Regions from separate parts of the Homo sapiens genome. Here regions 2, 3 and 4 are each reported to be linked to region 1. The links are microRNA targets in miRTarBase. Many come from high-throughput screens and were not tested one by one. Region 1 holds a microRNA gene; each other region holds the end of a gene's coding sequence.

Region 1 (7,163 bases):
ATCAAAATCTGCTCCTCAGATTTGTGCTAATTCTAAAGAGATAATAAAAAAACCCTCAATTTAGACCGTGATATTTTTTTTTAAATAATACTAACATAGATTTCATTTTAGCATTTGTGAGTGCTTTGTGCAGATTTTTTATAGAGTAGAAATAAAATGGAACAGTCAATGATATTAGCCTCACATACTATGTTTCTAAAATTTTCCAAGGTTTGGTTTTTATATTTTTTCAGCTTTAAAAATACATGGTCATTGTTAAAACTTGGGGTAATTTCAATAACAATTCAAAGAATTAAATAAAATTTGCCCATATTTCCACCACCCACAGATAATTATCATTAATCTTGGAGTGTGCTTTAATTAATAGACTATTTTTAGAGCAGTTTTAGGTTTAGAAAACAGGAATGGAAAGTACACGGAGTTCTGATGTACTCCCTCACGCCCCTCCCTCCACACACAGCTGCTTGTACTGACATCTTACATTCGAGTGGCACATGTGTTATGATTGATGGGCCCATGTTGTTACATTAAGATGAACTAAGTCCATTACTTACAGGAGGCTCACGCCGCATGCTGTTCATTCTGTGAGTTTTGAGAAATGCATAATGACATGAAGCCACCATTATAATGTCATACAGAGTTTTTTCAATATTTTAAAAAACATACATAAAATTAATTTTCACTTTTCATTGGGTAATATAATTTTTGTTTTTTATTTTACAGATTGTGGGTATTGTTCTTTGATTATAAAAGACAATAGACATTTATAAATAATAGTGCTGGCCACTAAATGAATCATCTAAAAAACTACACTGGTAGAAAGCATGCATTTATTTTATGAATTCCATTAGCTGCCTATCAGGGAACATGGAGCACTGGGGCACAGATCCCAGCACAGAAGGGTTTGCTTCTCTTCTGTGGTTTTCATGTCAATTAATGATTAGGCCTTGAGCCTCACAAGAAAGGTGATAGGCCTTTGAGTCGGTTTACTGCAACAGTCTACTCAAGACTTGCCCCAGGCCCTGGGAAACATGTAGGTTTAAAAATCCCTACCCTGCGTTTTCCTTTCACAGGGAGTGAACTTCTGGCCCAGGCAGTGGGCAGTGGGGCACGGTTGCCCCGGAGATGAGACTCCTCTTCCCGCCCTGGGGGGTGGGGGCTGGCTGGTGGCTGAGGGAACTATTTTTGTTTGTTTCTTTTTTTAAAAAACGGAGTCTGGCTGTGTCCTCCAGGTTGGAGTGCAGTGGCGCGATCTCGGCACACTGCAACCTCCGCCTCTCGGGTTCAAGTGATTCTCCTGCCTTAGCCTCCTGAGTAGCTGGGATCACAGGCGCCTGTCACCACGCCCGGTTAATTTTTATTTTTATTAGAGACGGGGTTTCACCATGTTGGCCAAGCTGCTCTCAAATTCCTGACCTCAGGTGATCCGCCCACCTCGGCCTCCAAAAGTGCTAGGATTACAGGCAAGAGCCACTGCGCCTGGCCGGGGAACTGTTTTTGATGGGTGGGGTCCCCGGCTGTGGTTGGTAGTGTGGGGGCGTGGCCGAGGGTGTGGCCTGAGGGAGTGAGCTAACCGGGGGCGTGGCCTGATATGGGGCGGGGGGAAGAGCCGGGCTGGGGGCGTGGCCTGGTGGGGAGCGGGGCTGGGGCGTGGCTTGGCTGAGTGTGCTGCCGCGGCGCGGGAGGAGAGTGTGCGTTGCGCTTTCTCCCGCGATCGCCCTGCCGGTCGCTAGCTCCGAGGGCGCGCACTGGATCCCAGGCTCCTCCGAGAGTGCGGCGACCTCGGGGCTCCGCCGGCACCGGAGGTGGCTCTGAGGGCAGGGACGTGTTGGACACGCTGACTTTGTAGGCTCCGCCAAGAGGCGCCGCAGGAGGTAAGACGGCTTCGGGCGCGCGGCTCTGCCGGGCGGGCGCGGGCATGGGCTGTTAGGTAGAATATCGGGAGGATTTGAGTCCCAGTGGACTGCCTCGGGGCTTCGGGATGTCCAGCTCCCAGCTGCTTGGCCTCTGCTTCCCCCGCCGGTGGAGGCTACCGGGTGCTCACCTGTTAGGTCCGTGCGCCCGCTCCCTGCCCGGCGGTGGCTCTGCGCCCTCTGGGCCACCCGGCACCATCGCTTTTGGGAGGACATGCACGTGGTGTTCTCGCAAAAGGCCGTTTCCAGCCGGAAGCCTGCAGGGAGGTCGCCTTGTAACTTCACCCGCGCTCCCAGCTCGCGGGGCCTGGCCTACAGGGGCGGCCGTGGGGGTGGCAGAGTCTGGGGAGCCTGGCGCGGCGGAGCCCTGTAACGCTCTGCTCCATCGGGTGGCGTGGCTGGTGCCTCCGGGGACCCGGAGCGATGCGGTTGGAGAGCTTAGTTTAGAAAGCAAGTTTCTCTTGGTACCAGCGGAGTCTCGTCCCAGGGGAAAGATTTTGGGACCCGGTGCCCATCGTCTGTGGACTGCAGGGAATGCATTGGCGGAGTTGGTTTGGTCCCATTCTGTGCAGGAGGTGGGGGAATTGGTACTCCAGCCCCAGGCAGGTAGAAGCCCGCGCTGCTGCCAGCGTCAGGGGGAGCTCGGGTGACTTGGGCTGGGCCACCCATCTGACTGCAAGGTTACAGAGCTTGAGCAAATTTCCCCTCCCTCCAAGTGCAGGAAAACCAAACCAAAGCAAGCAAACAAAACCCTGTGGGTCATTTGCTTCCCAGCATTGCATAGGGATGTGGATAAATAGAATAATACTGTGAATTTATTCAGCTCTTGTTCCCATGGCTTCCCATAGCCTTATATTATGCACCTCCCCCTGCCAGCATTTTCTCTGTCCCCACCTTCGGTTTTTGCTGCCTCGTGTTTTCTTCTCTGTGAACCTTTCCTGGTCACCCAGCGATTTGCTCTCCTTTATTCCCCTTGCTAACAGGCGGAGAAATCTCACTCCTTTTCTTTTTCCACCTTTCCCAACAAATTCTCCTTTTTTCCTAATGTCCCCCTCCCCCGTCTTGCAAACTTCCTCACTGCATTATTCTCGGGGTGCCTGTCATGCACCCTCCCTGTTCTCTGCCCTCCTCCCGCACTTTAGAGTTTCATGTGGCTTTGTCTTATTATCCCATATCCTAATTCTCATCTACCTCCCTTGGCCCCCACGTTTGCCATCTGCCTCCACCCAGTTCTCCCATCTCCTTCCTTATTTGTGCTCCCGTGCATATGCAGGTTTCTTCCTTGTTTCCCCATGTTTCTCCCACAGGTGCTTTCTTCCCTTTGCCCTACTTCTCCCTGGCAGGCGCTCTGCCCAGCCACAGCCTGCCCCGCCTGGAGGGCACACCTTGCCTCAGTGCCTTCTGCTGCGGTTTTCCATGCTCCATCAGCATCCCTGGGTTCCTTGTGTTCTTCCAGTCCGCCCTCTGTCACCTTGCAGACGGCTTTCTCTCCGAATGTCTGCAAGTGTCAGAGGCGAGGAGTGGCAGCTGCATCTCTGCAGGAGGACTCTGGATTTCAGGACCCTCCCTTCTGCCACTGCTTCTGACTGATTGTTTTCTTATTGAAGTCGTATCCTCTACATAGTTCTAGAATTAATGTCAATATTGATGTTAGGTAGCATCTACCAAACTCTGGGTGTGTGCCAAGCACTGTTCTGAGGGCTTAACGTGCATCAGTACTCATTTAAAATCCTCCACACATCCCTATAATGTAGGATCTACTACTGTCCCCATTTGACAGATGAGAAAAGGAAGGCTCAGAGGAGGTAACCGGCATGGCTTCTTGCCACTGCCTAGCAGTGGAGGCCCTCTTCTCACCAGACAGTGGAGCTTCCCTGCTGGGTGACCTCTTGAACTCAGGCATGCCTGGAGTTTAGCTTTGGAAAGGAGGTTGTTATATGACATGTTTTATTTAGTCTGCAATGTACACCAGTGGAGGACATGAATTCTATACCTGTAGGACAGTGCATGGAGAAAAACCTAATGCCGGCTGTCCCTCAGAAAGCCTGGGGCCAGTGCCTGGGCTGTCACCTCATCCATGCTATCAGTCTACTTTCCCTCTTAGCCACAGGAAGCCCTGAAGAAAGTGGCATAAAAATGACCTGGCTGGGCACAGTGGCTCATGCCTGTAATCCCAGCACTTTGGGAGGCCGAGGTAGGAGGATTGCTTGAGCCCAGGAGTTCAAGACCAGCTTAGGCAGCATAGCAAGACCCCATCTCTAAAAAATAAAAATAAGAAATCAGCTGGTTGTGATGGCGCACTCACCTGTAGTCCAAGGTGCTCAGGAGGCTGAGGTGAGAGGATCTCTTGAGCCTGGGAGGTTGAGACTGCAGTGAGCTATGATTTTGCCACTACACTGCAGCCTGGGTGACAGAACGAGAGACTCTGTCTCTAAAAAAATTAAGTTAAATTAAAAAAGAAGACTACTGCCAGCTGTCTCCTCCCGTGCATTGAGAGTTCCGTTTCACTTTAGCTGGACAGATCTTTATGGTCTCTGTTAGCTGTGTGACTGTATGAGTCTTATTTATATCCATTTCATTATGTAATCTTAAAGCCTTGTCCAAACATTTCTTTTTTAGTCTTTATCTTCCTAAGAGTTGGAGGCAAGTAGTATTTCTACTTTACAGATACTGAAGCAGAGCATGCACCTTGATAGCTGAAAGGGACTTTATATTCTACAGATGAGGAAACCGTGGTCCAGGGAAATAAAATGGCATATTCAAGGGAAAGCAGCAGGACAAAGTTGGCTCTAAGGCTTCTCTGGTTCAGGGCTCAATGCCTGGCCCTATAGCTTGGTAGGTTGACCTCTCTGTTTGCTGCTGGAAGCAACAAAGTTTCTTTCCCCTTCCTTTCCCTTGAGCTAAGAGGCATTGGAAGGTTTCACTTAGAAGGGGAACTCATCAGTGCTTTCCTTTCTTTTTTGTCTGAAAACTAAACATTTAAGAAATGTTTGCCTATGAGACATGTAATAGCATAAATGGGATCATAACATCACAGTGGTATAAATTCAAATGTTTTAGAAAGAACTATCATTGTTATTTCTAAAACACCAGGAATGAACACCAAATGTACATGGTTTTCTTGAGGGAAACTATATAATACATGGCAATTTGAAAATCAGTACCTGGAATGTTTAATTGTATTTTACATTTGTGGAGAGAAATGCATTGGTACAAAGTGCTTACCTGATTTTCCTCATCTTTGCATCACAAATGAAAGAGCAGTAAAGGGGGAGCATAGAGTAGGTTGCTGTTTTTCTGTTGGCCTCTGCTGTACCCACATCCTTCTCTGGACTCCCACTGAGCCCCCTTGCTCCTGCCTCTGCTCCCTCCATGTTTAATGCCTCTTTTGGCTCCCCAGGGAACCTGCAGGGTATTGTTGAATTGTGATGCTCACCTCCTCCATACCAGCCTGTCTTGACAGAATGAAACCCTGATGCCCTGAGGCAGGCATCCTATGTGATGGCTTCATCACTCCCTCCTAGGATGAGATGGGTGATCAGGTACCATCCTGGGGAGAAGGGAGGAAGCATTTGCGTGAGGTATCCTCTGTGTTCTGTGGTTTAGGTGAGGATGGTTATAACTGAGGAGCAAGTCAAGTTTCATTGCTCCCTAAATGAGATGGAGGTTCAGGGAAGCTGTCGTGGCCAGAGCCCCATAGTAAGTGGCAAGACTGAGACTGGACCCCGGGCTGCCTGGCTTAGGAGATCCACCTGCATCCCTCGGTGTGTCTGTCTTCCCTCTAACCTGTAACTCCCTGAGGCAGAAACGGCACCACAGAACCTTTCACAACATCGATAGCTCCTGTGTGCTGAGCTGAAGGTGAAGCTGGAGAGGAGAGACCAGGGGACCAGGGGACAAGAGCCTGAGGGCTCAGAGGAGTTCCCAGTCCAGCCGTCGCGCTAACTTCGGGGTTGTGGACGATGCCCTCTGTGCCTGCAAGAACCCTGGGGAGCTGTGGCAACACCGCAGAATGCAAGGAGAATGGCGTCTGTGTTTCCTGTATATGTATGTGGTTGTGGCCATGTGCTGTGGTCAGGATGTCAGCTTCGGTGGACACAGGTAATGGCTGTCCTGTGGTCATCATGTTCCAGCATCTCGGAAATGGGGCTGTTGCTTCAGTGAACCAGGACCTTAAAGGACCTGACTTCTTGGTGAGCAATCACTTCCACCCATTTCCCTGAAGCGGGACTGCCCTAGTCTTTGTGGAATCACGAGAGCGCAGACATTGTCACTTGAGGGATTCTGTGCCTGCCTCAGACTGTCTCCCACCCCAGCATGCCAGGTCTGCCCTGAAGACCCACCAGCATCCATCTGCACCCTCCAAGAGGACTCTACCTGTCCAATCCAGGAGAGGGGAAGGGCCAGCCTTTCCCCTCCACCCCCATTCATACCAGAGCAGGCTTTGTTTCTTAACACTGGCAAGCTCTCCTTAGAGAGAAGTAGAGCACAGGTCCGAAATGGCCAGACTGGAGAGTTTCAATGGAGGGAGGCAAGCTGCCTTCCTGGGTTCCTGGGCCACCCAGTCTCCTGCCCTCTTCTCCTCTCTCAGCCCTTCCCGGTTGCACCCCCCACCCACCCCAACTCCAACTTTAGCAGCAGGAAAGGGGACATCTTTACTCACTGTCTGGGACAGATGCACGGGGAGGGCAGGCTTTTATTGTCTTATTCCAATGGGGGCAGGAGGCTGGCAATGAGATGTGTTGTGGTATTGCTGATCAGAACGTTGATCACATCTTTTGCAGAAAATGTTGCTCTGTGTGATAGGAACAGTCCATTGTACTTGAGTGTTAATGCGACAATTCAGTCTCATTACACAGGATTCTTAGGTCAGGCCCTAGCTCTTAGTCACCATGGGTGATGTAGAGATTGGTAAATGTGCCCTGAGTCCTAAACAACTTGCACATGTACTTTTAAACACATCCGGGTTGTGTGTTGTGACTCTATAGCTAAAAGAAAAATAGCCTCTGGTTCAGAAATGTGCTCCACTTCCACCCTTCCTGGGGGGTGGAGTGCTCTTCTGTAACGTATAAAAGTCTTTCTCATTCATCAGGAATGGCCTATTTAGGGATTTATGTGGATTTGCAGATTCTGCTATCACAAGTGTAATACCGATGATACTTCATGCTGGTTTGTAAGCATAAATGTATATGTAATACTTACTGTGTATCTTTTGTGTACTAGATGCTGAAGATGGAGAGATTGATCAGA
Region 2 (7,163 bases), not on the chromosome of region 1:
TTTTTTAAGGCAATACAGTGCTTCACCCCTTCTTTCAACAGAGCCCATCCACTTATTCATTTGTGCCACAAACCTACCATGCCGGATTTTGTAGTCATTCAAGAGTAGTCAGAAATCTAGACTTCACTGTGAAATCCTCAAGTCTTAAATGTTGGCAACTGATTCCATTTAAAAAGAAAAGTGCAGCCGGGCACAGTGGCTCATGCCTGTAATCCCAGCACTTTGGGAGGCTGAGGTGGGTGGATCACCTGAGGTCAGGAGTTCGAGACTAGCCTGGCCAACATGGTGAAACCCCGTCTCTATACAAAAATCAGCCAGACATGGTGGCTCATGCCTGTACTCCCAGCTACTCGGGAGGCCGAGGCAGGAGAAGCACTTGAACCTGAGAGGCAGAGGTTGCAGTGAGCCAAGATTGTGCCACTACACTCCAGCCTGGGTGACAGAGTGAGAACCTGTCTCAAAAAAATTAAAAAAATTAAAAAAATAAAAGATAAAAGGAAAGCACATACACACACACACACACACACACACACACACACACACACGATAAGGACCAGTGAGGTCTGACAGGAGGTGGGCAGTGTCTAGGTCCCAGGCCTGGAAGCTGCGTGCATCACTTCTGGCCACATCCCAGCGGGCAGAACCCAGTCCCACGGCAATACCAGCTGCAAGGGAGGCTGGGCAGCATCCGGCTTGTGAGCTCAGGAGGAAAACCAACAGGTGTATGAACAGCTAGTCAGTCAGTCACTTCCTCACTTTCTCATTGCTGGTATTGTTGCTGTGGTTTGACTGGCCACATGTCTCCAGTGCTGTCTGGCTTATTACCTCCATGTTTTGTAGGACAAGACCCTGTACCACCCTGTCAGTGGCAGCTGCATGGACTGCAGTGAAAGTGACCATAGGATCTTCATGAACACCTGCAACCCATCCTCTCTCACCCAGCAGTGGCTGTTTGAACACACCAACTCAACAGTCTTGGAAAAATTCAATAGGAACTGAGCCCTCATGTCCCCTTGGCAGGCCCCCCAGGGTCTGGCACTCACTGCAGACTTCCTCTTTCAAGGGAGGCAGGGCCCCTGTGGGCACTAGGTGTAAAAGGTGCTGGCCAAATGGTTCAGGGTGAAGAGGGCTCTTGATTCAGGGGCTGGGGTCTGCCTGGTCCTTGAGCCCCTGAGTTGTGGGGGTAGGGTGAAGAGCATATCCCACAAGAGGCCCCACAGGGAGCAGAGACTGCTTTAATCCCTGCTGACATCACGGAAAAGCAACAGAGCCTTTTCAACTTTGTCACTATGTCCCCTTGAACATTATGTGGGAGAACACCAAGGTAGCCTAGGCCACCCAAAAGTGAGTCCTGCGAGGTTGCCCAGCCCTCAGATGGCTCTCCTACATGATGGTGCTTTAGAAACAAAGGTAAAATTTGCCTGTTTGGGGCAGCTTTTAGTATCGATGCCACTCATCTGCAGCAGAAGAGAAAGAAGTCCTCTTGGGGCTTTTTAGTTTCTGCCGTCCTGGGGGGAACATTGCAGTTACTGCACAGCTTCTGTTCTCTGTCACAACCCCAGGTGATTTGGTCCGGTCAAAGGCCATACTTGGGGCCCTAAGAGTGTTCAGTATTGAATGCTGATCAGCTGCCAGGTGAGGAGTCAGAAGAGGGAGCCCCCCTAGACATTTCTTTGCAGCTATGGACATGCGGGATATCTCCCCCTGCTCTCTGGGTATTTGAAATGTCAATTTTAGCACTCTCCAGGCACAAGGACAGCCCAGCACCAGCTTTACAGGGCAGTGTTTCAGATGGCCCTGAGCCCACGGAAAAGGCCAGGTAGACCTCCAAACTAGAAATGCTGGCTGATTTGCCCTGATCCATGCTTCCATTTCCCTGTCTCTCTTCCCCAGGCAATTACTGGCCTCAAAAGAGGAACAGAGGTGCTGCGAGGTGCTCACCTCACAGAGTCTGGAGGCCTCCAGGATCAACTGTGGGCAAAGTGCCTGCCTCTGACCTCATCATGGTTCTAGTTCTCATACAGAACTCCAGAATTTTTAAAGAACTCTATAATTGGATTGCAAACTAGGATGCTACATAGGATTCTGGTATTCCACATCCAATATGGATTTCTAGAATGCTGTGATTAAAGGAGCCAGCCAGGTGTAATACAGTCAAGGCAGCCCCCAGCCTAGAGACAATCTGTGAAATCCAAAGTTGGTGGTGTTGGGAAAGCAGGGGGACATGTGTCCCTCAGCTCAGCAGAGGCTGTGGTACAACATGGTCCTTGGTGAAGACCTGCACCCCTGGAACCTCCCACCATCATCACAACTGTAGTCTCATTTGCAGTGGAGAAAAGAACCCGACGTCCCACAGCCAGATATACACCCAGCTCCATGCCAGCCCTTCATGTTTACCTTTTGCTTTGTTAATTACATGTCAGACTCCTAGAGGGCCTCCAGACTAATAGGAAGCATTTCTGTAACCAACCTGCCACCCACTGATTCAGAAATGGAAATCACATTCCACAATCTATGGCTTCCACCAGCTAGCCCAGGAAATACTTGAAATCAGCATTCCAATTAGTGTTGAGTCTCTTGATTGTGTCATTTACCAATTAAATAACTGAGACCTAAGTCTGGGAACAGAGCCACGAATCTGCCTTTGAGATGCTGGCAGATCTCAAGGCCATCAATTATTGGGGGAGGGAGGGACAAACACTCCCAATCATCCACCAGTCAGACTGAATGTGTAGCTGGCGAGGAATTACTTCCACTTCTGGCCCAGCACAAGCCCTGCTTTGGCCACCTGTCTGCAAGAGAGGCGGCCCCTGTGCTTGCAACGCTTACGTGTTGATCCCAGTGTCCTTTTCCAAATGAGTGCTGTAGCTTTAGAAGTGGCCCTCTATAGAAAGAAGTCAAAAGATGAGGCCCCTTCTAGAATCTAGGATAACAAGAGTGTTGACAGTTTGAGGAGTCGAATTGAGATTCATCATCAAAGAGCAATGCAGCGTCGTTAAAATAAAAACTGTGCCTTTTAAAAAGAAAAATGCAAATATAGAGCAAATCCCTAAACTTGAACCATTTCCTAGTGCCTTGCTAGACAAACATAAAGGGGCAGGGTTGTGGGGAGGGGAACGTTTTTGGTGGTGTGTGCAGTTCCTACTGGATGAGTGTGTGTTTCTTAATGTCTCATTTCAAGCAGGAGATGTTGGGTCTGGAGCAAGATCTGAGACTGAGATGTCCCCCAAGGGTGACAGGTCAGATTTATTTCAGTCAGTGCAAGTCACACTCCAAACTAAAGGCTGGGCAGTGCGTTTAGTCTGTGGCCTAGAAGACCTCATCAGCCCCCGAGAGGAGGCCTTGCATTACCTCACTGGGACCTGTTTGGGGGCCATCCCTGCGGTCCACCCTCTGAACCCCCAGCATGTTTGTCCTGTTTCTCACCATTGGGTTAAGGGGTGCCGAGCACTAGCTAGACTTCCACATAGTCCCACCCCAAGTGGGCGGCAGTGTTCCTGGCATGACCAGGATTCCTGTGAAAGCAGGAGCAGCAGCAAGCCGTCCCGGGCCTGCCTTTCCCATCCTTTGGTTCTCCTTTCCAGTCTGGGTTCACACCCTGAAAAGGGATGGGTGTGTCCTCTGAGCACTCTGGCATTTGTCATTGCTGAGCCCATATCAGTAGGTCCTGGGACTTGACAAAGTATGTGGGAGGGGAAGGAAGGACAGAACTTGACTGGCTCCATTTCATGGACCAACTGATCAATTGCCAGTACTAAGCCACTCATTGTTATGGCTTCCTTTTTGAAAACCACCTGTCTCAAGGATTCAGGTTTCTGCTCACATCCCCAGCTGATGCTCAATAAAACTCAGCCAGGAGCATATGGAGATGCTGACAGCCAGGTAATGGGTGAGACTGTGGGGTCCCTTTTCCTCTAAAGCCTTTACTCTGAGGATAAGGTCACAAAGTAGGGTGTGACTTGAAAGTATCGTGACCATGTGGCCCACCAGCAGCCTTTCCAAAGGGGAACTCCAGAGACATTTCATAATGCAAACAGCACTGTTGCTTTAAGAACAAGGCCTTTGGAGGTGGCTAAACTTGCACGCACGTGTGTGAAAAGCCATCCCATCTTCTGCCTCCAGTTGGAGCTTTCAGCTGTTAAAACAGTCAGAAACTATTGATTCTTCCCTTTAGGAAAAAATGCTCAGGCAGAACGGGGTACATCCACAGGAGGAATCGGACGAGAGGATGTGACATTCGGTCCAGGAGAGAAAGAGCAGTTTCTGTTAAAGATGTAACAAATGGATTTCCAAAGTCTACATGACATTCACTTTTCAAACTTCCCACCAGTTGAATTTCTTTTTTTCCTTAAGAAACAGGTGATGTCTTGGAAAACAGCTCCTTATGTCTCTCTGTGCATCTCCATTTTCCTAGTCTCTGGAGTCTCAAAAAGAGTGGCAAAGCACTTTACAGTAGTAACTGAGGAATCAGAGTCTCTGCTTCAGCGATATCTAGTTTGTACAGTTGGGTGATCTTTTGTAATTCCTAGGAGGTAATGCATTTTTAATGTTTTCTGAAGCTTTGTAAGTGTGAGAGAGGGACAAGAAGTGCAGTTCTGTTCTGGAATTCCTTATTGCTTTCAACGGACACTCTTTGTGAAAAATCCAAGTAATATTTTAGTTCAAACTTGATCTTGAGCCAAGGCCCACTGCCACCTCTGGGATGGGAGTCGGACCTACATACCAAGTGACAAGTTCACCTTAACATCTGCTTCCAGAATGGCTTTGATTCAGCCGTGCCAGGCAACAGAACAGGGTCAGACTCCTGCTCTGTTATTGGCTTGAAGACTAGGATCCCAAAGGGGTTGGAGGCAGGGAATATTTGAAAATTCAGACTGGAATTCCAGGCCAAAAGCTCAAGACCACCAGCCTCTCCTCCTGCCTGGAAAAATAAGCCTTTGTGAAAGACTGATTTACCATGTACAATTGTGATTGTGAACGTTGTTGAGTAAACCTCCAGACTTTCTCTAAAGTGGTCTCTGCCTTCTTCCTTCTCATGTGTCATTCTTCTTTTCATCATTCTTCACGTAGACCACCTACTTCGGACTCAGGCATTCTGCTGGGTACTAAAAACTCCCAACAGCCATCATTCTAGAGTGAAAGGCAGACCTAAAACAACTAAGATGATTTCAGATGCAAATAGGGCTATGAAGGGTATAAAGCAATGATATATTAGAGACTGGAGTGGGGGTCAACGTTAGCTAGAATGGTGAGAGCTGAAAGACATGAAGGAGGGTGAACCAAGATGATTTCCCGGAACAGAGTTCCAGGCAGAGGGAACAGCTAGTGCAAAGGCCCTGAGGTAAGTAGAAGTTTCTGTGTTGGAGGAGCAGAAGGAGGTTAGCTTGAAGAGTTACGTGGGGCAGCCCACAAAGGGTCACACCCAGGAGCGGAGGATCTCAGGAGGGCAGTGACAATATGAAATAAGCATAACTTTTTTTTTTGATGGGGTCTCCCTCTGTCACCCAGGCTGGAGTGCAGTGGCACTCATAGTTTACTGCAGCCTTCAACTTGTGGGCTCAAGTGATCCTCCCACTTCAGCCTCCCTAGTAGCTGGTACCACAGACACACACCACCATGCCCATCTAATTTTTTTTATTTTTTGTAGAGATGGAGTCTTGCTATGTTACCCAGATTGTTCTTGACCTCCTGGCCTCAAACAGTCCTCCTGCCTCAGCCTCCCAAAGTGCTGAAATTACAGGCATGAGCCACCACACCCAGCTGTAACTCATTTCTGATGCTTACCCAACAGGCATGAGTACTTGCTTACCAAAACATTTTCATGCTATCAGGTATTAGATATGGTAGGAAGAGCACTGTCTGGCCCAGCTCTACAAAAAAACTCAGTGAGATCTTGTGCAAATGCTGCTTCCAACTAGGCCTGTTTTCCACAGTAAAATGACAAGTTTTTGGATGATGCTTCCAGCTCCACCTGTGGTCCTATGATTGAGTCTTGGTTGGGGGCTACGGGTGACAATGAACAGAAGCTGGAAGCTGCCCCCTCATGCTGTCACTCAGGGACCACCAGAGGGTGCTATGGACCATGGCTTGACAAAGGCTGAATAACACAAAGGGGAAATTCTGACCCAAGATGACATGGTGGTGACTGACACAGTCCATCCAGGTTTTCAGTATGCCCATGCTCATGTTATCCTCACACAATAACACCTTACAGCTTTGTAGACATGGGGAGAGATTCAATTTTTAAAGCCTTTTATACCTGTTGTACCCCCCAGACTCTCAGAAGAATTCCATGAAACAGATAAGAGAAAAATATTAGCTATCATTCAGTAAAAATGCATCAAATGCCTACTATATACCAGGCACTGTGCTAGAAATTAAAAGACTGTGCAAGGCACTTATGATCTAGTTAGAAAAATAGACATTAAACAAATGATCATTAAAATAAATGTATAGTTAGGGACTGTGGTAAGCTCTGCAAAGGAGAAGTACACGTGAGAGTATAAGAACTTGACCTTAGCAAGAAGGTCATGGAGCATGCTGAGTCGGCTAAGATCTTGTCATGATATAGCCCACTCCTGGAGTAACAGAAGAGAATTTAATGAAGGAACTATTGCAGAAGTATGGGTGGGATTAAGGAAACAACAAAGGATGGTGAAGCACCTAAGGACTAGCAGAAATGGGAAGCTGTTACTACTTGTAAGCCTGAAAAGGCAAGAAGCAGTAGTGTTACTATAATGCAGAGAAGGCTGTAGCCAGGAACAGGGGCTTCCCAATGGGATCTGCAGCTGCAGGTAGTAAATTGCAGCTACTGCCAAAACAAGAGGAGATGGGAGGAATACATATCCTGTCCTTCCTCCTTTTCTACCTTCCAGTCATCTGCCACTCACTGCCTCCCATTGGGTAAACCCAGTAATTCAAATTCACATAAAGAAATAAAAAGCACTGGTCAAAATAACTATATAGGTAAATATAGAAGACAGTATAGATAGGGTTTTTTTTAAAACTTATTTTTTCTCCTAGCTGATTTAAAAGCAAACTGCATAATTAAATAATCATAAATCTATTGATGGGCACACAATGTGTAAGGATGTAATTTATATGTCAATAACTAACGAGAAAGGGGAGGAAGAAAGGGACAGAGCTATATAAGAGCAAAGTTG
Region 3 (7,163 bases), not on the chromosome of region 1:
TGTGTCCGCATGGTGGAAATACCGTTTGACGGTGGCTACCGCGCATCTCTTCCCAACCGCGTGATCAGTGATGTCACATTGCCAGCTGGAAGCTGTGTGTGGAGGGAGGATTGACACCAGGGAAGACAGGCAACCGTCATCAGAGAGCTGCTTGTTAAACATCACCAGCACACCTCTGCTTGGAGTCTTGTGCTATGGGAACTCTGTGCAAAGTAGGGAGTAATTAGAAATTCCCATGAGCCAAATAAGAACTGGGAAAAGGCTAAGACCGTATTGTCCAATACAGTAGCCACTAGCCACCTGTGGATACTTAAGTGTATTTAAACTCAAATAAATTAAATACAATTAAAAATTCAGTTCCTCGGTTGCACTAGCCACATTTCAAGCGTTCCCTAGCCACAGGTGTCTGTGTTATCGGACAGCACAACTGCAAAAGATTTCCATCATCTCAGAAAGTTCTATAGCACAGTGCTGGCTAGAAACCAAGTGCTTTACTGCATGCACATCATTTAGCACAGTTAGTTGCTGTTTATTATTCCTGTTCCACAGCTATTGTCTGCCATATAAAAACTTAGGCCAGGCACAGTGGCTCACACCTGTAATCCCAGCACTTTGGAAGGCCGAGGCAGGCAGATCACAAGGTCAGGAGTTCGAGACCAGCCTGGCCAACATAGCAAAACCCCATCTCTACTAAAAATACAAAAATTAGCCAGGCATGGTGGCGTGTGCACTGGTTTAGAGTGAGGACCACATTTTTTTGGTGCCGTGTTACACATATGACCGTGACTTTGTTACACCACTACAGGAGGAAGAGTAGAAGAACAATCTAGAAAACCAAAAGAACAAGAATTTCTTGGTAAGAAGCCGGGAACAGACAACAGAAGTCATGAAGCCCAAGTGAAATCAAAGGTGCTAAATGGTCGCCCAGGAGACATCCGTTGTGCTTGCCTGCGTTTTGGAAGCTCTGAAGTCACATCACAGGACACGGGGCAGTGGCAACCTTGTCTCTATGCCAGCTCAGTCCCATCAGAGAGCGAGCGCTACCCACTTCTAAATAGCAATTTCGCCGTTGAAGAGGAAGGGCAAAACCACTAGAACTCTCCATCTTATTTTCATGTATATGTGTTCATTAAAGCATGAATGGTATGGAACTCTCTCCACCCTATATGTAGTATAAAGAAAAGTAGGTTTACATTCATCTCATTCCAACTTCCCAGTTCAGGAGTCCCAAGGAAAGCCCCAGCACTAACGTAAATACACAACACACACACTCTACCCTATACAACTGGACATTGTCTGCGTGGTTCCTTTCTCAGCCGCTTCTGACTGCTGATTCTCCCGTTCACGTTGCCTAATAAACATCCTTCAAGAACTCTGGGCTGCTACCCAGAAATCATTTTACCCTTGGCTCAATCCTCTAAGCTAACCCCCTTCTACTGAGCCTTCAGTCTTGAATTTCTAAAAAACAGAGGCCATGGCAGAATAATCTTTGGGTAACTTCAAAACGGGGCAGCCAAACCCATGAGGCAATGTCAGGAACAGAAGGATGAATGAGGTCCCAGGCAGAGAATCATACTTAGCAAAGTTTTACCTGTGCGTTACTAATTGGCCTCTTTAAGAGTTAGTTTCTTTGGGATTGCTATGAATGATACCCTGAATTTGGCCTGCACTAATTTGATGTTTACAGGTGGACACACAAGGTGCAAATCAATGCGTACGTTTCCTGAGAAGTGTCTAAAAACACCAAAAAGGGATCCGTACATTCAATGTTTATGCAAGGAAGGAAAGAAAGAAGGAAGTGAAGAGGGAGAAGGGATGGAGGTCACACTGGTAGAACGTAACCACGGAAAAGAGCGCATCAGGCCTGGCACGGTGGCTCAGGCCTATAACCCCAGCTCCCTAGGAGACCAAGGCGGGAGCATCTCTTGAGGCCAGGAGTTTGAGACCAGCCTGGGCAGCATAGCAAGACACATCCCTACAAAAAATTAGAAATTGGCTGGATGTGGTGGCATACGCCTGTAGTCCTAGCCACTCAGGAGGCTGAGGCAGGAGGATTGCTTGAGCCCAGGAGTTCGAGGCTGCAGTCAGTCATGATGGCACCACTGCACTCCAGCCTGGGCAACAGAGCAAGATCCTGTCTTTAAGGAAAAAAAGACAAGATGAGCATACCAGCAGTCCTTGAACATTATCAAAAAGTTCAGCATATTAGAATCACCGGGAGGCCTTGTTAAAAGAGTTCGCTGGGCCCATCTTCAGAGTCTCTGAGTTGTTGGTCTGGAATAGAGCCAAATGTTTTGTGTGTCTAACAATTCCCAGGTGCTGTTGCTGCTGCTACTATTCCAGGAACACACTTTGAGAACCATTGTGTTATTGCTCTGCACGCCCACCCACTCTCAACTCCCACGAAAAAAATCAACTTCCAGAGCTAAGATTTCGGTGGAAGTCCTGGTTCCATATCTGGTGCAAGATCTCCCCTCACGAATCAGTTGAGTCAACATTCTAGCTCAACAACATCACACGATTAACATTAACGAAAATTATTCATTTGGGAAACTATCAGCCAGTTTTCACTTCTGAAGGGGCAGGAGAGTGTTATGAGAAATCACGGCAGTTTTCAGCAGGGTCCAGATTCAGATTAAATAACTATTTTCTGTCATTTCTGTGACCAACCACATACAAACAGACTCATCTGTGCACTCTCCCCCTCCCCCTTCAGGTATATGTTTTCTGAGTAAAGTTGAAAAGAATCTCAGACCAGAAAATATAGATATATATTTAAATCTTACTTGAGTAGAACTGATTACGACTTTTGGGTGTTGAGGGGTCTATAAGATCAAAACTTTTCCATGATAATACTAAGATGTTATCGACCATTTATCTGTCCTTCTCTCAAAAGTGTATGGTGGAATTTTCCAGAAGCTATGTGATACGTGATGATGTCATCACTCTGCTGTTAACATATAATAAATTTATTGCTATTGTTTATAAAAGAATAAATGATATTTTTTAAAAAGTCTTGGTTTTTATTATAAATATGATAAATATTGCTAGCTATAATCTACATAACCAAAAACCTTTATAGTTTTTTGGTGCTTTTTTTTTGTTTTTTTGTTTTTTTTTTTTTTGAGATGGAGTGTTGCTCCGTTGCCCAGGCTGGAGTGCAGTGCACAATCTCGGCTCACTGCAGCTTCTGCCTGCTGGGTTCAAGTGATTCTCTTGCCTCAGCCTCCCAAGTAGCTGGGACTACAGGCACCCACCACCAAGTCCAGCTAATTTTTGTATTTTTAGCAGAGACGGGGTTTCACCATGTTGGCCAGGCTGGTCTCGAACTCCTCACCTCAAGTGATCCACCCAACTCAGCCTCCCAAAGTGGTGGGATTACAGGCGTGAGCCACGGCACCCAGCCTGGTATCCTCTATAGTTTTTAATAGTTTTAAATAACATGCAAAGATCCTGTGAAATGGCCAACAAGCACATCAACATCACTGGTCATTTCAGAAATGCGAATCAAAACCACAATGAGATACTACTTCATACCCATTAAGATGACTTTAAGAAAAAGAATAGGAATGCTCACAGATGGCTGGTAGGAATGTCAAAATGTGCAGCCACTGTGCAAAACAGAGTCTGTTTTGGCAGTTCCTCAAAAAGCTAAACATAAATTTGTCCTATAACCCAGCAATTGTATTCCTAGGTACACACCCAAGAAAGACAAAAACGTGTCTAAATACAAACTTGTACACGACTCTTTATAACAGCATTATTCATACTCACCAAGAGGTAGAAACACCCAAATACCCAACAACAAAGGGATGGATAAAGGCCGGGCATGGTGGCTCATGCCTGTAATCCCAGCACTTTGGGATGCCAAGGTGGGCAGATCATTTGAGGCCAGGAGTTGGAGACCAGCCTGGCCAACATGGTGAAACCTCATCTCCACTGTCTCTACTAAAAATACAAAAAATTAGCTGGTCATAGTGGCGCGCATCTATAATCCCAGCTGCGTGGGAGGCTGAGGCACGAGAATCCCTTGAACCTGGGAGGCAGAGGTTGCAGTGAGCCAAGATGGTGCCACTGCACTCCAGCCTGGGCGACAGAGGGACTCTTCTCTCCAAAAAAAAAAAAAAAAAAGAATTGATAAGCAAATCATGGCATATCCCTGCCAGTGGAGTATTAGCCACAGGAAGGGATGAAGTATTGATCCATGCTGCCATTTAGATGAACCTCAAAAACATTATGCTGAGTGAAGGAAGCCAGACACAAAAGATCACTACTGTATGACTCATTTAACATGAAATATCTAGAATAGGCAATTCCATGGAGACAGAAAGCAGATAAGTGTTTGCCAGGGGATTTTTCTGGGGTGGTAAAAAAGTTTTGAAACTAGAGGGAGGAGGTAGTTGCACAACATGTTGAATACACGAACAGCCACTGGATTGTATACTTTATCATGGTTAATTGTGTGTTATGTGAATTTCGCCTCAACTTTTTAAAAAGGAGATCCTGAGGCCAAAATATTTAAATATTGCTTATCTTATTCTTGATGCTCAAAGAAGGGTCATCAGCCCAGAAGGATCCTCCTGAAGTCTTTATGGTGACTTTAGTATTCTACTAAGTGAGTTATCAGGGGACCCTGAATTTTTGTTTTCAAAAACCAAAATTAGCATATTACTAAAGTTTATGGAAGACTCCACTTTGGTATTCTATCGAGAACGTAAAATTTGCATAGCTCCCAGGAAGGCTGCTGTTCCTGATGCATCACCAGAACTATCGTGAGTTGGTTTCAGTTTTTACTCGCTGGTATTCCTTCAGCTAAATGATGAATTCCTGCCAGTGATTTTCATGGAGGGGTTGTGTTGGCTGGCTCCCAACGTGCATAATCAATTAATTTGCTGTGGGTTGAAAATCTGAACAAACTGAAAGTCAATAACTCTTCTTAGGTCTGTAGAAGTAAGTAAGATTACAGGGTAGCTCACTGTCCCCAATATTGGAGAGGCAGACAGGCTGATACAGGGAAATCATAACCTCCTGGACCAGAAACCCAGGAACAAACCCTGCTACTGGAACCAGCAGAGGGGCAGGAAAACCTAAACTGGAACTGACAAATTGCTGGAGGCTCAGTGTGGACACTTCTGAGAGATAAAAATTTCAGGGGAGCAACCCAGTCACAGGGGGTCCCCACTTTCATGACCTTTCCCTCCAGGAACTCAATGAGGTCTTCACAGTGAAGATGGGAGAAAAACTTCCTTGTGCTTTTGACGGGGGAAAGAGAAAAGGTACTGTCACACGCATCCGTGTGAAGAGAGTCCACCAACAGGCTTTGTGTGAGCAACAAGGCTGTTTATTTCACCTAGGTGCGGGCGGGCTGAGTCCGAAAAAGGATTCAGCAAAGGGTGGTGGGATTATCATTAGTTCTTATAGATTTGGGATAGGCATACAAAGTACATTCACAAGGGTGGGGAGAATATTACAAAGTACCTTCTTAAGGTCAGGGGAGAACATATCGTATCAGTTAGGGTGGGGCAGGAACAAATCACAATGGTGGAATGTCATCAGTTAAGGCTATTTTCACTTCTTTTGTGGATCTTCAGTTGCTTCAGGCCATCTGGATGTATACGTGCAGGTCACAGGGGATATGATGGCTTAACTTGGGCTCAGAGGCCTGACAGGTACCATTCTGAAATATGCCAGAGCATTCAGTACTTGTCCAACAAGGCCTGCCCTCAAGAAACAGTATTTTCCTCACTATCTTAAATTTTACCATAGTCTAACCAACCTAAATTTTACCAGTGTCTAACCAACCTGAAAGAAGGGAAATAACCAGCTCTAGCCTCTCTGCCCTTCTTGTCTCATCTAAGGGAGGAGGCGAATGAAAAGCACTTGTGAAGGTCACAGCCCAGGGGTACAGGCTTGCTGAAGGCTGAACCTAATCATAAGACTATGGAATGGTTCCCCTCCCCCTGCACCTTACCACCACATCAGTGGGGCTGTTGTGCGCTCACAGGGGACTACAGTGGAAACAACTGCACATTTCAGTCCCTCTTTAAGAAGCAGTCTCTAGGGAAGCCCAAAGATGAGAGGGGAGACAAAAACAAAGACACTAGAGGGAATTTTAGCCTCTGACATCTACAGCTACAGCAAATAGCAAACACAGCCTAACTCCTAACCAGGTAAACATAAAGGCTCACACTAAAGGCCTATTTACCTTGGTTCCTTTTATGCTGTATATCAGGTCCAGCTTTCAACAAAAAATTACAAGGCATGCTAAATGGCAAAAAAACACAGATTAAAGAGGCAAAGCAAGCATTGTAACCAGACTCGGATACTACCATGTTGGAATTATCAGACTGGGAATTTAAAACAACTACACAAATAAGCCATTATGACAGAGATTTCTATGGTCCTGTAGATCCATTCTTCCCTTCCACCATCAGTAATAAAATCCCCAAATTTTAACCCAACACATTTCTGCCCCTAGCTAAAGACAACACTTTCTAGCCTCCCTTGCAGCTAAGTGTGGTCATGTGACTAAATTTGGATGAGATGTAAACCAAAAAGTATCTGAGACAGGTCTAAATCCATTCAGAGGTTTATATTGCCAAGATTAAAGACCATGACCTGTGATACAGCATCAGGAGTTCCTGAGAACATGTGACCAAGGTGGTTGAGTTACAGCTGGGTTTGATATTAATGCATTTTAAGGAGACAGAAATTATAGGCGAAGACATAAAGCAATACATGTAAGGTATACATTGGTTCAGCCTAGAGAGGTGGGACATGTCAAAGTGGGAGGCTTCCAGGTCATAGTTGATTCAAAAGTTTTCCGATTGGCAATTGGTTGAAAGAGTTAAGCTTTGCCTGAGGAGTTGAAGTCAGTAAAAAGAAATGCTTGAGTTAAGATAAGGGGAGTGGGGTTGTGGAAGACACTGTCCTTGTCATGTACACGAAGCTTCCAGATAGCAGGCTTCAGAGAGAATAGAGAGCACATATATCTTATTGGAACTTAACAGACGTCAGACTCTCTGGAAAAGACCCATTAAGAGAAGGGAGATTCCTCCAGTATGAAAATTAAGAGACAGCTTTGCAGGGCCACTTCAAAATATGTCAAAAAATATTTTGGGGTAAAATAATTTTATTTCCTTCTTGGCCTGTTATATGTCATG
Region 4 (7,000 bases), not on the chromosome of region 1:
ATTATTTTCATTCCCTTATTTTGACATGTGATTTCTAAATACTTATAATAGTCTTTATCAAAACAGGGTGGTATCATGGACATAAAGATGGAAACAATAGAGACTGAGCACCAGGGACTATGAGAGTGGGAGAGGGTTGAAGAACTACCAGTCGGGGACTGTGCTCACCACCTGGCTGATGGGATCATTTGTACACCGTACCTCAGTGACTTAAATCAAGAATTACCCATGTAACAAATCTGCACGTGTACCCCTGAACCTAAAATAATAAAGTTGAAAGAAAAAACAGGGTGGTGGCATTATTATTAAAGTAAAGCCAAAGAGTTCTCATTAGAATTTTGTATCTTAGTATGCCATTTTCTAGAGGTCACTGGGATTGGCTTATTTTACTTTGTGCTACTTTTGTCAAATAAGTAAAATGGATAGATTTAAAAAACATAAATACTCATAGTTTATTTTCTAAGTAATCTAATCTTCCATATTATATGGCACTTATTTTATAGCATAATGAAATAAATGCTATTAGCATCGGTTTCTGTAAATTGCCAATGGACTGAAGTCAAGGTAAAAATCCCTGATTGTATTGACTCTCTGATATAATAACTTTATAAAAAGTTTTACACAAAGATTTAGTGTTTAGACAAATTCTTGTTGTCTAGAAAAGTTCAGAAAAGAGTAAATAAGGGATTCAGTCACACTTGATAAATAATTTACTATTTATATATTCTCATGTAGATTATTGAAATAGTAGTTTCCATCTCATTTTTATATTATAATGATTATTAGTCTACTTGCCTGTTTATGGTTTTAGGCTCTATTTGAGAGTTTTCAACTCTATGTTTATTATTTTTTTCTTTTGTATGTCACAGATAGGATCACGAGACCATTCAAATCTCTCCATTCCTTCAAGAGCTCCTCTTCCTGCTGACACAACTGGTATTGGGGATTTCTTACCATTGAAAGCTGAACTTGATACTACTTACACTTTCTTAAAGGAGACATTTATAAATACTGTGCCCCATGCTCTGACATCATCTCACTCCTCTCCAGTGACTATGTCTGCTAATGCCAACAGACCAACTCAGATTGGATTATGACTTCATGAAATTAAAAAATGGAGGAAGAGTTAACAGTACAATTAAAATTGTTTTGAATGGGAATTTTCTTATCAGTTGACTTTTGTTTCAGCAGAAGTGGCAGTGGATTTAAAAAATTTGTGCGCTATCTTGATGTATTCTGGTAGCTCTGTCTCCTTGAATAAGGAAATAGCCAACTTTTTTCTCTCCAAGTTTTATTTGTTATCACAGTTGCTCATTTTTATGTAACATATTTTTAAATGTTAAGGAATGACACATTTTGGGTAATTTCCCTCAGACTTAAAAAAATCAATAAGCCATTTTAGTCTCTATCTATCAAAGTTGTTTCATACTTGTCTATTTTAAAGCAGGACTGCAATGCTTTAATAGGATTGAGAGAGCTATTTGAAATGTATGCCAATGATTCCTGTCATTTCATGGCAGCCCGGCCATGGTTCACTGAGCCCCCTCTTCTCTCTTGTCAGCTCAACTGAAGACAAGCATTTAGTTGCAAACTTTAAGCAGGTTGTGCAAAACAGAAATGATGTGACTGCTTCTCCTCCTGCACAATAATGTCACTCCTGGTCAATGTGAGAAGGTCAGGTTGCTCCTTGTAAAGCTACATGATACCACTTGCCCATTTGAACAAGTTAAGTTAACTGCTGAATCTGGTCCCTGAAGGCACTGAAAACTCATTCTTTTAGCAAGTCTGCATTTGATAAGAAAGTAGAGCAATTGTGCTGGAGGATTTCTGTGGTATGTTTAGGCACTTCATAAGGACAGTTCCCACACTAGGATAGCAGGTAATATATTTAGTATAAGCTGAAAAACTTCAAGGTAATGGCTGTTTTGACCTTCAAAATAGACTCCTTTTTTGTTTTTGTTGTTGGTAGGACCCAAGAGTGACACCCATCTTTGATGCTGACAGAATTTAAAACAAGGCCATTGCCCTGCATTTTCTGCCTTGTAGCACACAAAAGTAAAATTGTATGTCAGGCCGAGATGTCGGGGAGCTGACAAGATGCCCCAGTGACATTTCAGCTAGAAAGAGCAAGTGTCTTGCAACCAAGTGGTCAAATATCAAATAATAGGTCAAGCAGGAAGGAGCTGAGTTCTAACCACAAAGAGGTTTCTGGTAACTTACTTGACAAGCTTTTGGGTGCTTTGTGGCTTGACAAAGTGATGTTCTGTTGGGTATCGCTAGACAGACTGTTCTTTATCGCCTTCAGAAGATCAGACATTGACATTGATTAAACTCTTTAACCCTTAAAGGTTAAATCCTTGCAGTTTGCATCATGGTAAGTGAAGAACAAAAGAATATTTGTAGTAAGAATTTGTTTTTGTATTAATCATTTAACTCCCTAGTGCTATTAACTTCTGATGTGAACTATAGCTTTTGACAAAGAGTCTTGATACATAATCTATTTTTTATATTATTTTTCATTATGGAATCTTTCATTATGGATACATTAGAGTATAACAGTATGTATTACAGAAGTTTTTTTGTCTTATCTTTACAGTGACATTTGATTCAAATTACCCAACTGCTGAGAATTTTTTTATTGGCCTTGGTAAATAAGATTTTATACTAACTATTTATTAGTAGCCAAATTAGCCAAGTGATTTATGCCATCTGAGGGAACACAGCAGTATTACTGTCGTACTGTGTAACACATCCTATTCTTGTAATACTGAACCACTATAATTAGCTTTATATAAAACTTTAGAAAGCTTATATGGAGTAAAATTATATCTTTAACCAAATTTCTCTTAATTCTTTCCTTGGAATTATTTTTAATATGACCTGTGTAACATGACCTGTATGAAATTCAACTTGCAAATTTATTATAACATGGAAGTGCTATTTATTGTTTTTATACAGATCATATAATTTCTGCACATTTCAGAACACCTTTCTCTGCTGTTCCAAACAATGATTAGGATATTGTTCATACAGAAATTGATAGACAATTTTTTAGTTCATGTGATATCACTGAGCTTACAATTCTCACTAGAGAAGAACAAGGTTACTATATGTAACCTCTATGTCTAAGTGTTTGTGTGTGTGTATGCTTGTGTTGAATCTGTTTTCAGATCCTACTGATTTTAGAGGAACAAGCAGCTTTGTAAAATGTGCCTTGGAAAGGCCTTGGTCTTCTTGCCTTGATTTTATAATCTGTTAATGGGATAACTCCAAAAATAAATGTGTATGTGTCTCCATATATATGGGTATCTAACTTTACAGGTACATTTTGTACAGTGAATTCTGAACCACAAATTCAAAATTCGTAAATTATGATTAAATCAAATCAAAGCATGTCACATTTATAAGCAACTAGATGCTAAAGGCCATAGAAACTGAAGGATGAACCTCCTGAGCGATCATTAGTATTCACTACCAAATATAGTAATATTTATACCATATGCTTTTTTCCCAGAAGTCAGACCCAGCAGGAGGAGAAGATTTAATGACATATCCTATGGAGATCTGAGAAACTCTAGACTGCTTCTAAGCACCTTAGTGACCAATTGCTGCATATTTGAGATCTCTGTTGTGTCGGCAAGGACAGTTGCTGTATCAGCTTCTTTATCTTTTTAAGAATGATGTATAGAGTAGACATATCTCAGGATAATGACTTCAAATATTTTTGTAGAGGAAAGGAAGTTTTACTTTACACTTCCGAATGTGGATTTTCCTGCTAACTTTCTGTGATCTAGAAACACACCTATATCACCTATCACTATTAATTCTTAAAGTTATTGTTCTGATACCTGAGTCACACTTACATATTGTGGAGTTGCTGACATTTTTAATACATGTATTTTGGAATGACATAATATAAAAACAAAGAGGTTTAGGATTGCAAAAATTGCCAGTTCAGTGATAACTTAATGACATAAATAAATAACCTTTTAAATAGAATGATCACTTTAATTTACCAAATATCTGACTCTTATTAAACTTAGCAACTCTATTTCCTATTTCATATTTATGACATATGCTATTATTGAATGTTTAATGAGATTATTAGTATTTTCATATTACTTCATTTACCAGTTGTCTGAATTCATTCTGTAGACCATACTGAACAATAGGAAGTTGATCCTATTTCACTGTGCACTTATTCTTTTTTTAAGAGATGGGCTCTCACAACGTTGCCCAGGCCGGTCTTGAACTCCTGGGCTCAAGTGATCCTCCCACCTCAGCCTCCTGAGTACCAGGGACTACAGATGCGTACCACTGTGCCCTCACTGTGCACTTTTTATAGACAAGTTTTCTAATATAAAAGGTGGAAGATAATTAATATTTATCAAGCAACTGTTTTATGCCAGTTATTATAGCAAAACTAATGATCTCACAACAAACCTCTAGCATAGGAGTTTCCATCACCATTTTAGACATGAATAACTGAGGATCAAAAATGTTAAGCTTTTGGCTACCAAAGATCATACATAACCTAGGAATTAGTAAGCCTAGAGCTGCAATTCCAAAGTCCACATTATTTTGAAACACTGCTAGTCCTGCCTTCCAGAAATAATTAACACTTTTTAAAGAGAAAAAAAAATTTTTTTTAATTGTCCTGACCAGCTAGGAATAATTTTGATAAGTATGTTTTGGTTTGAAATCTAGATTTCTTATGAATTGATTAGACAAAACAAAATACATACATACTAGCACTATTTATGTAAACAGTAACTGTGAAGTTGGTGTCTATCTTTCAAAGGAAACACCACCCTCACTGTGTTGCCCAGTGTCTCTAGCTTGGCCAAAAGACCACACAGATACTCTCAGAAGCAGAGTCTCTGTTGAGAGGTACTGATGGTGAGTCAGCTTGACCATGCTATTACTTCCCAATGGAAAATAATGACATATGCCAAATAAAGCTGATCAATAAAGCATTCACTTGTGTAACTCCTAGGATAAAGATTTAAAAATATATTTTCTGGACTAGTGTAGTAGGCTGAATAATGGCCGTACGAGATGTTCATAATACTAATCACTGAAACCTGTGAATGTTACCGTCTACGGCAAAGGGACTTTGCAGGGGTGATTAAGTTAAGGATCTTGAGATCAGGAGATTATCCTGGATTAGCTGGGTGTGCTCTAAATGCAATAGGAGGTATCTTTGTAAGAGAGGGAGGTGCAGGGGTTAGTTTGACTATGGAGAGGAAAAGGTGATACGATGATGGAAGCCGAAGTTGAAGTGATGTGCTGTGAAGATGGAGGCAGAGTCCAGACTTAAGGCTTTCAGGGCGGTGCTAGAAGCAGAAAGAGGCAAGGAAATGGATTCTCCTCTCAGAGCCTCCAGGATTGTAAGAGAATACATTTGTGCTGCTTTAAGCCACAAGTTTGTGGTAATTTGTGGCAATATGTCACAGCCACCGAAGGAAACTAATACACCAGTAAACGTTTAGTAATTTTTTTAAAAGATTAATATGTTAATCTTTTAATATTAGCAAACAGAGAAAATGTTCTTTCTTTTAAATTATCCGTAATAATTGCCTTCATAACTTGAATTTTCAAATTCTTTTCGGTTTCCATTTTATATTCATGGCTTCTAAATATAATAAACAGTGATTATATTGGGCCAGCATAGAGTCACACTCTATTGCCATAACTTTTGATAATTCTTCAATTAACCTGTGATTTCAATGTATATTTTAATTCCTACAGTTTTAAAAAGATGCCTTAAATATCTTAAAGATCTACTTTAAATGATTGTTTTTATTTTATTCCATTTTGGTTGGCATATTTTAATAGCTTTCTTACAAAAGAAATTGAATCTTGAATGAATTTATATTAATCACAGCTTAAAATAATGATAGGGAATTTATGAATTATATACTTTAAATTAAATTATATATTTAAATATATTTAAAAGAAAATGCCAGAGCATTTCCTGGTCATTTCTCCCTGCCTTTTGTTATAATTGAAGTGAGATAATTTTAATAATTTTATTCAACAAGGAAATCTTCTAAAATTTTTACAATGTACTATGTGAATCCATTTTGTCTTTACTTTGGTGAAAGCATATAATTTTTCCTGATGGTTTAATTTAGTGAGAGAAAGGAGAGCAATTTTAATTGAAATGACTAAGTGTTAAATGTGATCAAACCTAAAATATTGAAGATTTAAACCTAGAGCGTTAAATATTGCAAGTACAGCCAAGCAAAGAAAAGAAAAATAAAGCCTCTGGTTCTGTAAGAAACCCCTCCATTCCTCCAGTCCTCCTGGTTAAGTGAGACATAAATGTGTAAATTTACATATTAGAAGAGCTCCATCTTTTTTCTTATACCTTAGCAATTTTATTACGAGACACTTTTCTGGCTGTAGAATGTGTTGATTGACATATCCAGATATCAGATGTCCTGTTAGTTCATATTATGGATGCGTACATATTTTTTCTGAACCTCCCCCTGCATAATCTTTTTTAGTTATTGTTTTAAACAAATCAGAATCTAAAGGTCTCCCTAACTGTATCTTGTGGGCAAATTACATTTCCATGGACGTTGCGATGGGAAAATGTGTTCTTACTCTTTGCAGTAGTGATACCTAATTGATACCACATATTCTTAAGTTTAAAATCTCTGGATATAGTATGGGAAGGAGATAAATCAAAACAGAGTTTTGCTCCTTCCTCTAAATCATATTCTGTGTAGGTGTGTTTGATGCTTAGGCATATGTTTTTAAAGCGCTGACCTTAATGTTAGGCAACAGAAGCCCTACAACATATAAAGCTTTGAAAACTACTGGGTTAATGTTATCTGAAGACAGTTTTTTTGTGGTTTAATTGAGTCATGGTTCATTGTCTTTTATTGCATGTTAATGCCAGTGAAATGCTGATTGTTGACAGAGTCCTCCCAGTGAAGCGGCTCCAGAAATGTTGTGCGGCTATAGGAAACTACGTAAAATAGGAAGGCTT

Evidence for each region. The annotated mature microRNA hsa-miR-2276-5p reads GCCCUCUGUCACCUUGCAGACG and lies in region 1 at 3,373-3,394, shown strand. An mRNA with a match to its seed (bases 2 to 7 or 8) in the 3' UTR can be bound and repressed. Matches are read on the target gene's strand: a 7mer-m8 pairs with bases 2 to 8, a 7mer-A1 pairs with bases 2 to 7 and ends in A, and an 8mer does both.
Region 2: miRTarBase lists GALNT10 as a target of hsa-miR-2276-5p. Seed matches in the 3' UTR shown: 7mer-A1 at 1,649-1,655 and 7mer-A1 at 4,575-4,581.
Region 3: the mRNA of IL2RA is a reported target of hsa-miR-2276-5p. Seed matches in the 3' UTR shown: 7mer-A1 at 1,803-1,809.
Region 4: the mRNA of CCDC171 is a reported target of hsa-miR-2276-5p. The part of its 3' UTR that is shown has no 7-base or 8-base seed match.

What each region holds. Positions count from the first base shown.
Region 1 is chr13:24,159,059-24,166,221 of GRCh38, forward strand. MIR2276 (microRNA 2276) reads left to right here and starts at 3,358; the gene lies at 3,358-3,446. SPATA13 (spermatogenesis associated 13) reads left to right here and starts at 1,662. Exons shown (of 13, transcript NM_001166271.3): 1 at 1,662-1,874. RefSeq lists a silencer at 1,553-1,612.
Region 2 is chr5:154,415,974-154,423,136 of GRCh38, forward strand. GALNT10 (polypeptide N-acetylgalactosaminyltransferase 10) reads left to right here. Exons shown (of 12, transcript NM_198321.4): 12 at 841-5,011. The coding sequence ends at 999. All of the region lies in intron 2 of SAP30L-AS1 (SAP30L and GALNT10 antisense RNA 1), which reads right to left. Among named protein-coding and RNA genes, the nearest start is that of SAP30L-AS1, 26 kb to the right of the region's middle.
Region 3 is chr10:6,006,539-6,013,701 of GRCh38, reverse strand. It overlaps IL2RA (interleukin 2 receptor subunit alpha), which reads left to right. Exons shown (of 8, transcript NM_000417.3): 8 at 806-3,013. The coding sequence ends at 830. Among named protein-coding and RNA genes, the nearest start is that of IL2RA-AS1, 25 kb to the left of the region's middle.
Region 4 is chr9:15,970,740-15,977,739 of GRCh38, forward strand. It overlaps CCDC171 (coiled-coil domain containing 171), which reads left to right. Exons shown (of 26, transcript NM_173550.4): 26 at 870-3,298. The coding sequence ends at 1,097. Among named protein-coding and RNA genes, the nearest start is that of LINC03041, 300 kb to the right of the region's middle.